Regions from separate parts of the Homo sapiens genome. Here region 2 is linked to region 1. The links come from fine-mapping of genetic effects on gene expression. A gene starts in region 1. The other region holds a variant in brackets. All regions are shown on one strand. Distances are between the middles of the regions.

The links.
Region 2: its variant is fine-mapped to the expression of BIN3 in lung (TOPMed, PIP above 0.99).

Annotation. Positions count from the first base shown.
Region 1 is chr8:22,665,679-22,674,004 of GRCh38, forward strand. BIN3 (bridging integrator 3) reads right to left here and starts at 3,443. Exons shown (of 9, transcript NM_018688.6): 1 at 3,366-3,443. The coding sequence starts at 3,373. RefSeq lists a silencer at 3,143-3,302, enhancers at 3,166-3,795, 3,553-3,612 and a cis regulatory region at 7,302-8,151.
Region 2 is chr8:22,632,098-22,640,423 of GRCh38, forward strand. It overlaps BIN3 (bridging integrator 3), which reads right to left. Exons shown (of 9, transcript NM_018688.6): 3 at 4,825-4,865; 4 at 4,428-4,489. It overlaps BIN3-IT1 (BIN3 intronic transcript 1), which reads right to left. Exons shown (of 1, transcript NR_027715.1): 1 at 8,274-8,326. Among named protein-coding and RNA genes, the nearest start is that of BIN3-IT1, 5.9 kb to the right of the region's middle. RefSeq lists an enhancer at 1-105. The variant G/A (reference allele first, on the strand shown) is at 3,218.

The DNA of each region.
Region 1 (8,326 bases):
GATGGAACACACGGAGTGAAGATGGACAGCCAGGCCCAGAGGGCCTCAGAAGCCCTGGCCCAGAGTTGGGCCTCTATCCTGAAGATGATGGCAAGGGACTACAGGGTGAAAACAGGAAAGAAACAAAAAGGATCAAACATGAGGAACACCAAAGTGTGAAGGGCAGACAGAGGTAGAAGACCCCGGAAGAGTCAGAAAAATATCACTCCACTCATTTCACAGCAGGCTCAGGTGGCAAATTGTCAGCAGGAATGGCCACTCCATGCTACAGATGGAGAAACTAAGACAGAGAACAGCTCAATGCTTGACCAGGCCGCACTGTGAGTGGCTGAGCCAGAACCTGAACGCAGCACTCTAACTCCTACTCACACTTACCTGCTCTGCCTCTAATTTCCTTCCTTTTTGTCAAACTACTGGACCCCTAGGTATAGGGAGATTTCTTCCAGTACTCCCTTTTCCTCCTCGTTTAAGCCTAAAATCATCAAGGTGTATGGTTCAACAGGAGGCTACAATTCCTGGAGCCAGCTTAGATTGAGGTCACTATTCTTAATTCTACTTAATCCTCTCTCCATACCATAATAAAGCCACCTGAGTATACACTGGAAGATGGGGAAGAGAGACAGGAAGGGGAAAAGGGAGACAAGAGGGAGACAGAAATAGGGAGGGAGGGGGTGAGTGGGGAGGAGAGGAGAGAAAGTTGGGAGGGGGGCAAATGGCGGGGGGAGGTGGGGTGGACAATGGGAGAGAAAAAGAGAGCGAGAGAGAGAGAAGCATTTGGCTTGAGGCCAAGAAGTGAATCTGTGATCTGAGATGTGAATATCAAATGCCTTCTTCCTAGTAGGACAGACCACCGGGTCACTTTTCTGAAAGGCAGATGGGTGTATGGGGAGTGGATGGGTAGATGGTGCAGGAAGGCAGCAGGTACCCACTAAACAAACAGGGGGTGGGCGGGTTGCCTGCACAGAGGAAGCAGAGAACAAAGGCCTCTCACTCTTCATGCAAAGTCCACAGTGTGCAAAGGGCATCAATATTGGACATTTCTCACTGTGACATTTTGAAAGCTCAGCCTAGCCCAGAACAATGGTTACCCTCTGGGGACCATGGGCCATGTGCCTTATTTAATGATGGCTTGGCACAGCCCATGTACTTGGTGAACTTGACCTTGGGCATCAGCCTCCCATGATGGCTCTACGTCACTCTGGTCTCTTCCCCTAATGAGAATTCCAGTCTCACATGAATGGATGGATTCATTCTGGGGGCAGGAAAACCACTCAGGGAGTGAATCAGAAGGACCCAGCCCCGGTCTCCTTGCCAGCCATTGAGCTAGGAACTGAGTGTGATTGTGTGCCCAGGCGCCGGTGCTGTTCCCGTCTTTGAGAGACAGGGTCAGGGTCCACGCAAGAGATGACGTAGAAGCCCTTTAAGGGGGAAGAGAAAGGAATCTCAGCTTTGAGGGACAAAGCCACCCTTCTGGCTGTGACTCTCAGTCCAAGGAGATACCAAGATGTGCATGTACTGGTAAATTAAAGCTACTAGATGAAAATCTCAGCTCTTGTTAGACAGTTGTCAATCTCAATTCTCTCCAACCTGACAGGATAACCTTTAAGGAATGGGCTACTATTTTTTCAGAAGGGAAACTTTCTGTGAGACAGGTGGAAACAACCTGCTTCGGATCACCCAGAGAATCATTTACCTTTATTAGTTTCTGCTGTGCTCTTCTCCCAACTTGTGAAGGAAAGATTGGTTCAGTAAAGGCCAATCTAGGCAATATAAAGCATCTGTACTGCCTCATTTTCACTTTGAAAAATTAGGTAAGAACACTCCAAAGATTCAAGACGCAGCAGCCAAAAGGATATCTATATTGCAAGACTGGGGGGCCCAGAATGACACTGAAAGGACGTAATTCCTCTGGGAAAGGGAACTGAAGAATTGCCGCTTTGCCCACCACTAACTAGGTTATAACAAGACAGGGAAGGTAGCTTTTTAAGGCTCCAGCCCCTTATTGGCCTCCTGGAGCAAATGGTGGAGGGAAAAGCAGAAGCTCCTGCCGGGGCTTATTAGGACATTGCTTCAGGCTTTCCTCCCGTGCTTGCGGTGATTGTCTGACATTTGTCCATCAATCTTGGTCTAAGAAACAGGTGGGGGAGGGGACAGATGGTTCGCATTTTACTTTAGAGAAGTATCCCTGACACTGACTGATATCAGCTGCTTGCGTTCTCCACTGATGGCCAAAATTAAGCTTCAAAAGCCTTCCTGAAGGACATTCTGTTATCTTAATTCATTCATAACTGGTTATCATGCGCTTTGCATAAACAAACACACTAGCCTCTGAGGACAGAGTGGCAAATATGTTCCCTATGTCCATGGGCTGATTAATCTTGTACATCTCTGGGGCTCAATTTATTCACACACTATAGTTGAATCCCCTGAGGTCCAGGGTTGTGGCTATATAGGTCCTTGGGCCTGACGGTAAGGTAAGGTGCTGCATATGAGTATTCTCTAACCTCTAAGAAAGCCCCAGGAAGGCAGGCAAGTCACAATTCTCTCCTGTGAACATAAATAATCGAGAGCAACAAATGGGGATTGCCTTTTGGGCAAACTGAGTCTTACAAAATAAATACACCATTATGAAGTGTCTACTATGACCCAAGTATCACATCATACTGCAGCAACTGGAATTGTGACTCTATTACTCTAAGACTCCCTGGCTTCTTTTCTCATGGCATGATAGTTCCCATAAGTTTAAACTTAACCATGCCTATTTAGAGGGCAGGCAGTGAGTAATAGCTCTGGAATGATTAAAACCAGTCCAATCCCACAGTGGAAGGGTGTGTGCGGAGTGTAATTCTGGCCCCTTTAAAAAGAGAAGCAAGTTTTCCTTGTCTTTTGAAGCCTGCTAAGTCGTGCAAAGAGGATAGTTACCCAGAAGGGAGTGGGTTTTGATTAGTGAACTGGGTCCAGGCTGCCACAGCGAGGGCCACAGCTCTGGAGGGACTGGCGCGGGGCAGAGATGCCCACAGGAGAGAAAGACGACACTGACTCCACCTCAATGGGTGTTTAAAAAAGGAGGGAACAAGGAAGTCCCTCACTTCAAGGAGCTAGGAGGACGCGAGTCCGGCAAAACGGGTCAGACGCGGAGTCCCAGGCTAAGAGGATCATCCGCCACTCTCCCCGGGAGTCCTGCTGAGAGACTGCGACTCCGGAAAGCACCGAGGGAACGACCCTAGGGCAGGGGCTGTCGGGCCTTGCTCTGGGGCGGAGGGGTCGCGCGGGACCGGAGGGAGCCGGGACGCGGCACTGACACAGGGCCAGGGGCCTCGCGGGTCCGCGGGTCCAGCAGCTCCCGCCGCCTGGGCCTCACTCACCAGCTCATGGTCCCGAACCTGCGTCTGCCGCCGGGGTCCTCAGCCACAACTCGTTTCTCTAGGGTCACTTCCGGATTCAACCAGTCTCCAGGAAGTGACGTAAGCCCGCCTCTCTGCCCGGAAGAGGCGGTTGGGAGGCGGAGCCCGGCGCGTTAACCCTTCTGCTGCTGCGTGCTCGCCGCGGAGTTTCCCTTGCCGGCGACTCTCTGGCTCTGGCCAAGCGCTTAGACACACAGGCTGCAACGGGGGATGAGGGGAACCTCTGGGGGCGTTTTCTGCCTTCAACACTGACTCCTAAAGATCTCTTCACCTGACCATGCAGGGCCCTTAGCCGGGCTGTCCCCTCTGTCAAGTGGTTTCTAATCCAGAGACAGTGGCAGCAATTGTCTGTGGGAGAAGAAGCCATTTGGGATGGAGAAAGTGGAAAACTTACATTCTCTGAATGCTCTTTCCTATCTTTTACAGTTTGTACACCACACATGCATTACCTGTTACAAACAAACGGACGTTTCCCTTCCAAGATGGCACAGGGCTCTGAATATCAATAGATAGGTGCTTTTCAGGTTGGAATGTTTCCTAGAGTTATTCAACACAATAAGACGCAGAGTATGAGTTGTTCCCTGCCTTTCAGCCCTTCCCTTTGGTCTCCTCTACAGGACTCAAATGATGTAAATTGCCCCATTCGTTCTATTCCTTCATTTAACTAATACTAGTTGCACTAATATTAGTGTCAGGTACCGAGCCAACCTTAGGATACAGCTATCTCAGAGAAGTATCTGCCCTGCTCTTGTTCCTTCCCAGAGCTACTTTCCTGGAGGGAGAGACAAGCAGGCAATTATAATCATGCTATAGGATAGGATAGAATGAGGTGTGGTGGCAGCCTAGAAGGGGACCCTGAAGTAGCACATGGGGTTTTGGGGAAGGCTTCCAGGAGGAGCCAGTGTGTAAGCCAAGCCCTGAAGGCAGAATCGGGGCTAGCCAGGTGAATCTGAGATGAGGGGTGACGAGGCTCCAGGCAGAGGGAACTTACCATGGCTAAGACACAGACAGGACCAAGCAAGCAGCTGACTTGCCTCGGGTCTCCCAAAGTCAGAATTCAGGGCCTTAGTGGCTCACAAGTTGCCTGGGATTCTGGGCCGACTTGGTTTCCTCACCGCTAAGTACCTCCCTGCCTTGGAAGAGAGACAAGAAGGCAGTGAGGCCCGTGCAGGTGCTGCTGGGCCCCCAGTGACCTTCTCTCTAGGAATTCTCCTTCCTCAGATGGACCGGGATTGTTTCAGGGACTGCTTAGGGGGTTGCTAATCAATGACCTAGCGGGAAAAATATGACCAATGACCTAGAGCAGAAGTAGTGTATGATTTGTTTTGACCTCCTAGGGTGGAGTAGAGGGCTTGAGCAGGAGAGGTAGGAGGGTGGGCCACAGGATGCAGTCTCTCATTTGTGTTTTCTGTTTCCATTCTTGAGAGTCCATAGTTTGACTCAATTGACGTTTCCAATGGAGGTTGGATCCCCAAGCACATCATGCAGATCAGCTTCATTACCATGTTGTTCCTCAGGAAACAGGCCAAAATGAGCACAAGAGCAGCCTTGAAGAGTAAAGAGGAAGAGCAGAAGTCACCAAAGGGTAGCCTGGGCAGAGAGTGTGGGTAAAGGGAAAGAGAGAGTCCTTGCTGCTTTGCAGAGAGTGTGACGGATGGAAGGGCTGTTGTGGGTTTAGGAGCCTCCTGGCAGTTAGCACCTGTGAATAGTTTTCCCACCTGCTTCCTCCCTTCCCCATGTTCTGCCTCCCTCAGTTATGCCCCACAGGGATAAATATTTCCAAACGTTTTAGCCTAGGTAACTGCTATATCCTAGTAGAAGTCTGTTTCAGGGCTGGAGGGCAGCAGACACATCCTAGAGGACTAGAATGGATAAGTTCTGGACTACAAGTCTGGAGGAGTCTGCGGCTCTATTTCCAGTTCAACCTTTGACACTATAACTGACCTCAGATAAGTCACATCCCCTTTGTGGCCTTAGTCCCCTCATCTATAAGATGGAGTGGGTAGATCACATCCCAAAGTATCCAACATTGCAAGGTTCCAAGTCAGCTGTCTTGTTGACTCTAGAGGCCCTAGGGAAATAGGAGAATGGGAAAGGCAGGTGAACAGAGGGGCAAGCCCAGAGAAGTGGGCAGGTCTGAGGAACTGGTGATATCTTGGATAAAGCTAAATATGAATTTTTCTGGGGCTGTGCTGTTGACAGGTCACCTCGAAATCTTTAATGCAGCCAGCAGGATCTTTGAGGTTACTAAAAAGAATGGTGTCCTCCCAGGAGTCTGTCTGGAATGTGCCTGCTTGGTCTCCTTACCTGTGGCTCATTCGCTCAGCTAGAGGGGCACTGGGCTGAGGAGGGACAGTCAGGCATCCTGCTATCCTGTGTTCCTCCATGAGCCTGCTGTGCCATGAGGCATTGATCCCTGGGGAGCTGAACATGGAGACACACAAACACTTCCCACTGTTGTGAAAAACTCAGCCTGCAGGGTCGGGAGCTATGTCTTTCTTATTTATAACCAAAGGGACAGCATGATACAGATTGATCCTGCCCCTGCAGGGAAGGAATGGAAAAGAGAAAATTGGGTTTCTAAGTAGAAGCTGAGAGTGGAGGCGCTTTGGGTAGAGGTGGATACTCCTGGTTTCAAGCCTTGTAAATACTGATTCTTCCCCAGAAGTCTGAGCCTGAAGGTAAAAGACTGTTCAGGTGGCAGAGGTCTACTTCTGGGACAAAGCTGTTTACGAGGGGAAAAGCAGCAGCAGAACCTGCTCCACCATCAGCCCCCAACTTTTCCTTGGAGGTTTTTGCTCAGAAGTTGGTAAGCAGGTGCTTCCCACTGACTCTCATCTCTGGGATTGTCATGTCCTGTCTCTCCCAGCCTTTCCCACACAGAAGTCTAGGGCTGGCCCCCGAGTCTTTCACCATGCCAACCTCTTATTAGTGAAGAGTGAGCATTCCCAGAACCTGGACCTGGGCTGTCAGGGACTTCATTATAGCACTGGGCTAAGGCTGAAAAACTGAATGTGATAGGGCCAAATTGGTGGGCTCAGCTCTCTTGGAGCCCTAAAGGTCTTGATTCCTCAGGGAGGCTCCTGCAGATATTCAGACACAGGCCTCAGGTTTCTCTGTGGCCTCACTGCCCCACTTCTCCCTACTCTGTACCTGCTCAGTAGGACGTCTCAGAAAAATAGCTTTCCCAGGGCCTTTGGGGGGCAAGGACATAGGAGGAGGAGCAAGGGTGGGAGAAGAAGGAGGAAATCAGGGTGAGATTTCCAGTGGTGGGAGGCCCACACGGACTGCTCAAAGGTCAGGGTGAAGTGACACATCAGAAGCCAGGACAGCAAGAAGCGAGCAGAACCAGGAACGCCTGTCTGACCCGTGGCTCTGCCTCCAAGTGGCTTGAGGGAGTCTTGTCCCTCCTCTGGGCCTCATTTTCCTTGACTGCAATGGGAAAGGTCCAGGTTAGATCTGGGAGGGCGAATGGATATCATCCCATGTGCCAACTCTGATTGTCTGCTTGGAATGCAGTGTTGAGGATTCTGGGGAATCTGCCATCAGTGGGGAAGTTCTATGATTGATTAGTCATGTCTGCCTTGGACAAGAAAGAGCGATGAGATGGTTTATATTCCACTTTATTGTTATTATTTTTATTATAAGTTAACAATAATTGAGCACTCATGACATGACAGGCACTATTCTCTGCAGTTCACATTTAATCCTTGCCTCAACCCTGTGAGGTGGATACTACCATTATTATCATTTCACAGATGATGGCGCTGAAGTATAGCCATGAAGCAATAGTATAGCTTCATGAAGCAGTGAAGTGGGGTTTCTGACCTGAGCACCCTGGCTTTGATCCTTATGCTTTTGCCACTACAGTTTGCCATTTGACCTCCAACAACCTTTGGTTCTGTCAAGGCACAGTGAGGTCAGAAGCCAGCAGACAGATGGAACCAGGAGAAGCACCGCTACTAAATGGCCAGGTTGTGGGTGGAGGGAGGGCCACCCTATGACCAGGGTGCCAAGCTCAGCCTCATCCTGGGAGCTTTTATATGCTTCCTCCAGTACGGAGAGTGCCAGGCCAGCAGGTGGCAGCACCGGGCAGGGTGACAGGAAAGGGCAGCTCCTCACATGGCATGGACGTCCTTCAGGGATCAGAAGGCCCAGATGCTGGGGAAAGCAAGAACAAATGCGGGTGTGGAGGAAGGATAGCCAAGGACCCAGAGGAGGAGGAGTCCTGGCCTCTGACCTGCAGGAGCTGCCACAGCCAATGCTTTGGTTCCACCCAGCAGTGCAGGCCTCTCAGCTTGCATCTCGTGGTGCCTGCTGTGGGCTTTTTTTTTTTTTTCCTCCACTCTGGGAGAATGACTAACTTTAAGGACTAAAAAAAAAGTGTTTTGATTACACTGCCTTTTTACCAACTGGGAGCATTAGTCACCGTGGATTGCTGCAGATAACGGGGAAGGCAAGCAGCACCCCCTCCTCCCCCTCCTTCTCTCTGATTAGCTCACAGAAACCAGGAGGAGACATGAGTGAGGGAGAGTGCACCAGTAGGGAAAACAATCCCCCCGGGTTGATATGTTCCCTGGGCATCAGGCCAAGGGCTGTCCAGGCTGGGCTGCCCCCTGACAGGTAGGCTCTAAGATGGCCCCAGACCCACAATAGGAGGTACCCACTGGAGAGAACTGGCAGTAGGACCACTGAGTCCAAGGCTCCTGAGATTCTGAGTTGGGTCTGGATGGTCTGTTCCTCCAGGTAGCTCCAGGGCACACCCAGAAGGGGAAGTCAGAGGAAGTCACTGAAGACACAGCTCCTGAGCTGGGGCTCAGGATGTCTGTGATGTGGAGCTCATGCCAGGCTGTGGTATGGCTAAGGCCGCTGCCTTGAGCTGGGGCCCTCATGGCTCTACCTGGGGTTGAGACATTCCTGGC
Region 2 (8,326 bases), 34 kb before region 1:
TACTAAGGGAGAAAAAATTGTTGTCAATCAAACCAGGCTACACTTTCAGTACTTTGATTTCAGAGACATTAACTGTGGAAAAAGTGTCTTAGGACCCATGACATAAGGTCTGCCTCCCAGTTAATCACAGATGTGGCCTTGCCTAGCACTCCATGGCATGAACCTGAACCCTGACCCTGCGCTCCCCGGGGAAGGGTCTGCCTCCGCCAGGCCCCTTCACCAGTCAGCAAAGCAGCGCTGAGCGGACTAGCCAGCCCGGAGCACCCTCCTGGGGTTTTTCTGGAATCTGGGAGAGTGCTACAGTCAACCAGCAAAAGGGCAAACTGTGGGAGAAGGCTGGAAATGTAAACTTTCCAGAAATGTTGAAGCAACGGAGGGAAAAACACCTCTTAAATTCTGTGGAGTGACTCTGTAGATTTAGGAACAAACGTTACGTATAACTTGATTTGATTATGAAATGATCACATACAGCATAATAAAAAGATAATAAAATTCTGGATAAAGCTGGAAATGTTTCTGAAAAACATCTTCTGCTATTTCTTAAAAAAATATCTGAGGAAAACAACCCAAAAAGCCAGAGGAGCGAGGACACGGTCTTTCCACTTTCCTTTTTTTTTTTTTTTTCAGACGGAGTTTCGCTCTTGTCACCCAGGCTGGATGGAGTGCAATGGCATCATCTCGGCTCACTGCATCCTCCGCCTCCTGGCTTCAAGTGATTCTCCTGCCTCAGCCTCTCAAGTAGCTGGGATTACAGGTGCCTGCCATCACACCCACCTAATTTTTGTATTTTTAGTAGAGACGGGGTTTCACCATGTTGGCCAGGCTGGTCTCGAACTCCTGACCTCAGGTGATCTACCTGCCTTTGCCTGCCAAAGTGCTGGGATTACAGGTGTGAGCCACTGCGCCCAGCCCAGCTGCATTTTCCCCTTTCTTTCCTAAAGCTCTTGCATTGTCAGGAAGTCAAGGAACTGAGTGGGCTCAGTGGCCGGCCCTGGGCAGAACTGGGTCTGGAATCCCCGCCCAGTGATGCCCCCGCTTCATGTGAGCAGAGCAGAGCTGGGGTAGATGACACCAAGAACACCATGGTCTTGGCTGGGCGTAGTGGCTCATGCCTGTAATCCCTGTGCTTTGGGAAGCTGAAGCAGGAGGATCCCTTGAGCCCAGGAGTTCGAGACCAGCCTGGATGACACAGTGTGACTCTGTTCCCCCTCAACAAAAATAAACAGCAGGTCTCCATGCCCCTCTGGACCTGTGGTCCCTGCCCCAGCCCATACCCCTCATTGTTCCCTGCAGGGACTGGGAGAGGGGCACAGTCAGCCTGGCCCACACCAGGAGGCTGGTGATCTTTGAACCTTAGAGAAAGTGAGGGTCTTGGACCCCACCCGGGTCTCTGGAGTCCTGATGCGGCCTCTGGAATGTAAGATTCAAAGATTCACCAGAGCACTCTGAAAGTAGTATGAGTTTCTGAAAGAAAGGTCATCTTTTTTAGAATAACTGGGGATTTTCCACCTTGCTGGGGGAGCGCAGGAGATTCCACGCTCAGGAAAAGCATCCCTCCATTCCCCTCAACTGTCCAGATCAGTGGAGCTCACAGTGTGGGCCTCAGCATCACCTGGGAACTCCAGGGACACACATTTTCAGGTCTCGCCCAGCTCATGAGTTAGTTGGAGGCTGGAGGTGGGGCCCAGCGGCCCACGGCACAGCAAGCCCGCCTACAACACTGATGCCCCGTACATGAGACTGATGTGGCTGTCAGGCTCGCCTTGGCCCCATGACCACCACCACCGCTCTTCAGAGGCACTGTCTCTGCCCACATCCATTCCTGACTGAGGACAGTAGTGTTAGGCTTCTGCAGTTACCCATTCAACTCTGGTTTCTCTGCTGGGAAACTAAGCTTTCCACAGCCATGGACGGTGCGTCACGGACCCCTGATGCCCTCCTTGGTTCCGTAGCAAGCCACTGTGAACACAGCACACCCTGGCTTCGTTTATGCTCTGACAATGCAGCTGTCTGCAGAAGCAGGAAGGAAAGGAAGCAATGGCTCACAGCAGCTCCCGAACTGGAAAGGCAGTGGGGACCGATCAAGAAAAATGCGACCCAAGTAACTCAGACCTGAAATAACTACAAAACAAACAACTGCAGACAAACTCCCAAATCCAGTCCTTGGCTTGTGACACACATAGTTTGGCAACGCTAGAGGCCAGGAGCAAGGTGCATGTTCAGACCAGCCCACGGCCCAGGAATTAGCACTGGCATGAAAATTCATGGCACAGACCAAGACGGCCACAGTCCCTGCACAGGCAGTCAGCGCTCACCCGGGCATGGTGGTGGTGACGGCGGCTCCCAGGGAAGGAACGCTTTCCTTTTGTGATCAGTGCTTTGTAGGAAAGGTGTGTTTACACATCAGTAACTGGCTGAGGCTTAGGAGCTGGCATAAAATGGGAACAAATTCAAATCACTGCCTCTATTGGGACATTTCAAGGGTTTTCCTCGTAACTGCAGTACCAAGTAGGAGCACACTGGTCCTCAAGTCCCACCCGTAGGTGCCCACTGCCCTGTGGCCCTTTGAATGGTGTCAGGAGACAGTGAGGCCGCCCCATTTGCACTAGGCTCACAGACAGCCAAGCAAAGAGTGGATGGGCAACGGTTCCGGAGTGGGGGCTGTTTCGGTCACCTTCTAGTTTGGTGGCGGGCACGGGGGTGGGCAAAGGAATGAGTGGGGCATGGGGAGGCTTCGCTGTGGAGACAAGGCCCTGGACTTGGAGAAGAGGAGCTGAACTCTTCCTCCTTTATCAAATGGACATGCCCATTTATAAAATGGGTGTGTCATGTGCCCTGCCAATCTCAAGGTCAGAAAAGCTCAGGGAGGTGAAATTTCTTCACAGCCATAACATGGCATTATTCAGCAGCTGGAGTGGCCGAGGGGACTGAAGATGGCTTCTCCACCCTCCTGCTGCCTCTCCTGCATCTCTGGTCAGCGTGCACCACCTTAGGGCCTCCGCGCTTGCTGTCCACTGTGTTTCAGGCCCTCTTCCCTTGGCTCTACCTGTGTGGGTTATTCATTCCTTCAGGACTCTGCCCAGGGATCACGTCCCCACGAAGGCCTCCCTTGACCCTGTCACTCTCCACCTCCTTATTTTTATTGACCTTGCACGCCACGACGTGTCATTATATACCGATCCGCTTGTGGACCTCTTGCAGGTCTTCCTCCTAGAAC[G/A]TAAGCTCCCATCTTGTCTTGCTGTTGAGTCTCTAGTGCTGAGAGTGCCTGGTGCACGTGGGTTCTCGGTCAGCATCTGCTGAGTGAGAGGAAGTGGGCAGTCCTGGCCATACCCAAGTCTCTTTCAGGTCCTCGTCCCAGTGTGGTATATAGACACGGCTTCCCCACTGGACCCAGGGAAGGAGCTGCAGGAGTCCACCCAGTCAGGGAGGCTTGCTGCCGACCATGACGACGGTGATGACAGGAGCGGACACCCCGAGAGCTGACCCGTGCCAGGCCCTGTTCTCAGTGCTTTACGTTGCTCATCCAACTTCATCTTCAGCAACAGCCTGTGCCACTCGGATTGGCGTTACCTGTGCTTCTCGGGTGACGGAACTGAGGTAGAGCTAAGTCAGCTGTCCAGAGCTGCGCAGGGAGTGCTGAAGCTATTGATCAACCTTTGGTCAAGTGCTTGCTGCTCCGGGGTGGGAAAGTCAAGGCCTTGGAGAAAGAACCTCAAGGAATGGTCTCCATCTCTCCCGGCTGCTCGTCGCCTCCTTCCTGGGACATGGCCTGCAGCAAGGGCTCTGGATGCTCCCTTATTCCCGACCTGCTTGTGTCTCTAGGCTCCCAGGCCTGGTTCCTCCTTGTTTCAAACAAGAGCTCTCCAGCCAAGAAACCTCCCCAAGGGCCCTGGCTGTTTCCCAGCACCTGCTGGCCCCCACTTCCCAAGGACCTCCCGGTGCCCTTTGTCATCATAGAATTATCTGGGGTATTTCTGGCCTTACACTTTAACCCAACCTCCTGTTTAAACACATGACAGCTTCCATTCTTGTTGCCACTGGAGCGCCTGTCCCAGCAGGCCACGGAGTCTCGTTTCTGCGGGAAGGAATGTGCTTCCCTTTCCCTCTGGACAGCCTGAGCCGGTGGCCAGGATTCTGAGGCAATGGAGGCATCTGCTACCAGAAGCTTCCACCAGCTGCTGTACTGTCCTGACTGGAGTCCCAGGAGAGCCTTGCCCCAGCACCCACATCCAGAGTGGGGCAGTGCGAGCTCTGTGCAAAGTGGGATGTGACTGGTGAGGAGTGACTGCCCTGAGGCTGCTTCTCAGGACACTGGGTACACGTCCTCTGAGCGCAGCAACTTCAGAGCCCTTGGGGGGCTGAGAGAGGAGGGTGCCCACCTCTGCCCCACCTGCTCAAGCGAGTGGTGCGGGTGGAAAGTCACCTACCCAGGTCTGCGTCGGTGCTCTTCTTCATGTCTTTCTGCAGCCTCCGGGTCTGCTCTTCCAGCCTGCAAGGCAGGGGACGGGCTGCTTGGGGTCCCCTTCCTTCCCCCTACCTGAGCGAAGCCCAGGTGCTCTGGAGGGCCTGCCAAGGAGGAGGAGAAAGGGATCTTCTCCACGGGGACTTTTCCCGCTGACTGAAGTGCCACTACACCCAAAGGCTATGAGTGAATGACTCTCACATGGCCATTGCCAGGGAACAGTTCCAGCAGCCTGGTGACCTGAGCTGCCCTCAGCTTCCAGGGTGCTCACGGGGCAGGGCACGGGGCAGACAGGTGAGACCTGGCAGGGGGCCCTTGTCCCTCCCTGCCTCCCACCTCATCTTTCTGGGGTTGACACTCACTGCTGAAGTTTTCCATACTCCCTTTCAAAGTCTCTCTCCACCTGAAACGAGAGAGATAACTCAATTATCGGAGAAATGACAACACGGTGGAAAAAACCTCCCAGCCTCCTGAAACTCTCTCCACACCCTGCCCCAGTCCGCAGAAAACAACATGGTCCAGTTCACACAAGCACCGACAGATCGCTCCTGACACGGTATTTCTGAGATCCCAAGTTAATTAAGTGTTTGAATTACGGAGGAAGGCTCCCCTCCCAGAGGGTCCAGCCAGGCAGGTGCCAGCGGACTGTGGCTCTGCTCTTCCCAGCTGGGAGCAAGGCACTCGCTGCATGCCCTCCTCACCCCAGGCTGGAGGCAGTCAGGGTGCTCAGAACGTGACTGGACCCCATCCAGGAAGGCAGCAGAGTGCAGAGGAGAGGGCGGGTCTGGAATTGGGGGTCTGTCTCTGCCTTTTCCTAGTTTCCAGGTCCATGCAGGGCACCTCCCCTCCTACGCGGCCCTCCACTCAGGGCCACCTGCCCCTGCTGGGCTCAGGGTGGGTCAGGAACAATCGTGCACCTGTGCTTTGTGATTGGGATGCATCAAACACAGACACTGTGACTACTGACTCAGGTCAGGCTCTCTCCATTCCCGACCGGGTATCAACTCTCTTGAGAGCCAGCAACACTGAAACCAAATGGGTGAGTCCTGAACCCGGGGCTGCACTTGTTGCGGAAGATGAAGTTAAGAAGTCTAGTACTTTCTTCTGGTGCCTTGACTTCACTATCTGTAAAACGGAGCCTCATGATTGGTCTCTTATGGGCATGCAATGGGAAGTAAATGACATCGAGAGGCAAAGGAGACTAAGCTAGAGGCCTGCCCTCCCTGGCCAGAGCTGCAGCCGTCAGGTGCCAGCTTCGGGCTTCGTGCTCTGAGAAGTCAAAACCGCTAACTCACATTCACAGAGCCCTCACTGTGTGCTTTACAAGAATGCAGTTCTCTACACTCATCTCCAAGGCAGGTCACCGGGAACCAGGTTACGTACCCTGGCCAAGGTCACCCCATTGGTGAGGGGTAGAGTTGAGCACAGTGGGAATGGAACCCAGGCAGCCTGGCTCCACAGCCTGTGTTCGTAACCATCATTCTCCTGGAAGGCATTTGCTGACCCAAGAAAGAAGTCTTCCTGGCTGCTCCCTGGGAATCCTGTCCCCAAGAGCCCTAGATCCTGACTTCTGCTCTGAGGGTCAGGGAGTACACATCTGCAGAAACTGTCAAAGCCACGCTATTCCTACCACTGTCTTCCAGCAACGCTGACCTGATGAGAGAATTCTAAGCCCCTTAACCTTAGCACTCCACGTTTGGATTTAGATTAATTCAACATAGCCCTGGAATGACAAAACAGCATTTATGCTACAAATGAGGAGCCCGAAGCCCAGAGACAGGAGTGACTTCCCTAAGGATGCAGGACATTCTGGTGGCAATGCAAGGCTAGAATCCAGAGTCCTGGTTCAGGTCTTTTTGTTTCAAATTTAAACAACATTCATTCCTACGAACATGTATGAGCACCTATTAAGTGCGATGCATTCTGCCAGGTTCTGGGGATACCCTGGTGATTCAAACAGACATGGGCCCTGGTGGTGGAGATAAACAACTGCCAGATACAAATTTACTTGCTGACTATGATGGGCCTTTTGGACAGCAGGAATGAGGCCAGAGAGAGTTGAACACAGAGTCTGCTTAGCTCTGGCTCTCTGGGCATGACAACAGACTCACTGCATGGAGATAGCTTACCTTCCTCATTTCAACTGTAAAATCCAGAAGCAGGAAAAAAATGATCTTTTCCTTACTTTATGATCCTAGCATCTAGAACCTTCCACAAAACTGTGAAGTAAAACCCACCATTGGTGCCCCCGCCTCCCATCCTACAATCTTTCTTCCTCTTTTCAACAGACTCTTTCTCCATCCAGGAACCCACTATTTTTATCATTACTTACCTTAGGATCCAGCAAAAGCTACTCGTAAGAAAAAAATTCAAAAATCACTCCCACTAAAGCACAAATGCTTGATGAGCATTTAAAGTGTTGCCTGTCCCAGGGGATTTACAAGTTTGCAGGAACCAAAGTCTTAGCTAAAGGAACGGAAAGACTCTGGTGTAACTGCAGGTGGGAAATTTGCTTTGGTGTGAAGGAGCCTCGCCAGGGCCCTTGAAAGTCTGTACTTTGGTGTCAGCCTGGTTTTCTCCAGCAGGGCTGGAAGAATGCAGTTTAGAGGCATGAGCAGAGACAGGTAAGATATGAACTCTGATACTAGCTGTGGAGACTTGATAGTACTAAGCATTTTTTTTTTTTTTTTGAGACAGGGTTTTGCTCTGTTGCCCAGGCTGGAATGCGATGGTGGCATCATGGCTCACTGCAGCCTTGACCTTCTAGGCTCAAGCAATACTTCTGTCTCAGCCTCCTGCATAGCTGGGACTATAGGCATATGCCATTATGCCTGGCTAATTTTTTAAATTTTAGTGGAGACGGGATTTTGCTATGTTGCCTAGGCTTGTCTTGAGCTCCTGGCCTCAAGTGATCCTCTTGCATTGGCCTCCCAAAGTGCTGGGATTACAGGTTTAAGCCACCTCACCCAGCCAACTTTAGGTGGCTTACGAGGAAATAGCTGATATCATCTACCCCAGTGGTTCCTTTTGAGGATTAAGAGGCAGTGCGTGTAGAGCAGATTGCAAGGTGCCTGGCCCATGGCAGTCCTCACTAAATGTTAGTTTCTGTGTTTTTCTCCTGCTCACTGGGGTGCTGGGAAGACCAGAGCAATTTGGGGCTGCAGGCTGGGCTATAAACCTGGGCTATAAGCTGCCCCAAGCACACAGGAAACTAGCAGCCAGGGAAACCCTGATGTTGGTTAAGGGTGGAGTCCCATGCTTGGGTGTTGTGATAATGCCCTAGCTCCCTTTACTAGACACACTTTTTTTTTTTTCTTTTGAGGCGGAGTTTCGCTCTTGTCACCCAGGCTACAGGGCAATGGCGTGATCTCGGCTCACCGCAACCTCCGCCTCCCGGGTTCAAGCGATTCTCCTGCCTCAGCCTCCCGAGTAGCTGGGATTACAGGCATGTGCCACCGCGCCTGGCTAATTTTCGTGTTTTTAGTAGAGACAGGGTTTCTCCATGTTGGTCAGGCTGGCCTCGAACTCCTGACCTCAGGTGATCCCCCCCGCCTCGGCCTCCCAAAGTGTTGGGATTATAGGCGTGAGCCACTGTGCCCAGCCTGCTGGACACATCCTTCTTCTTCTTTTTTTTTTGAGACAGAGTCTCACTCTGTCGCTCAGACTGGAGCGCGGTGGCACAATCTCTGCTCACTGCAACCTCTGCCTCCCAGGCTCAAGCAATTCTCATGCCTCAGCCTCCCACGTACAGCTGGGACTACAGGAGTGAGCCACCACACCCGGCTAATTTTTGAATTTTTTTTTTTTTTTTGGTAGAGATGGGGTCACCATGTTGCCTGGGCTGGTCTTGAACTCCTGGCCTCA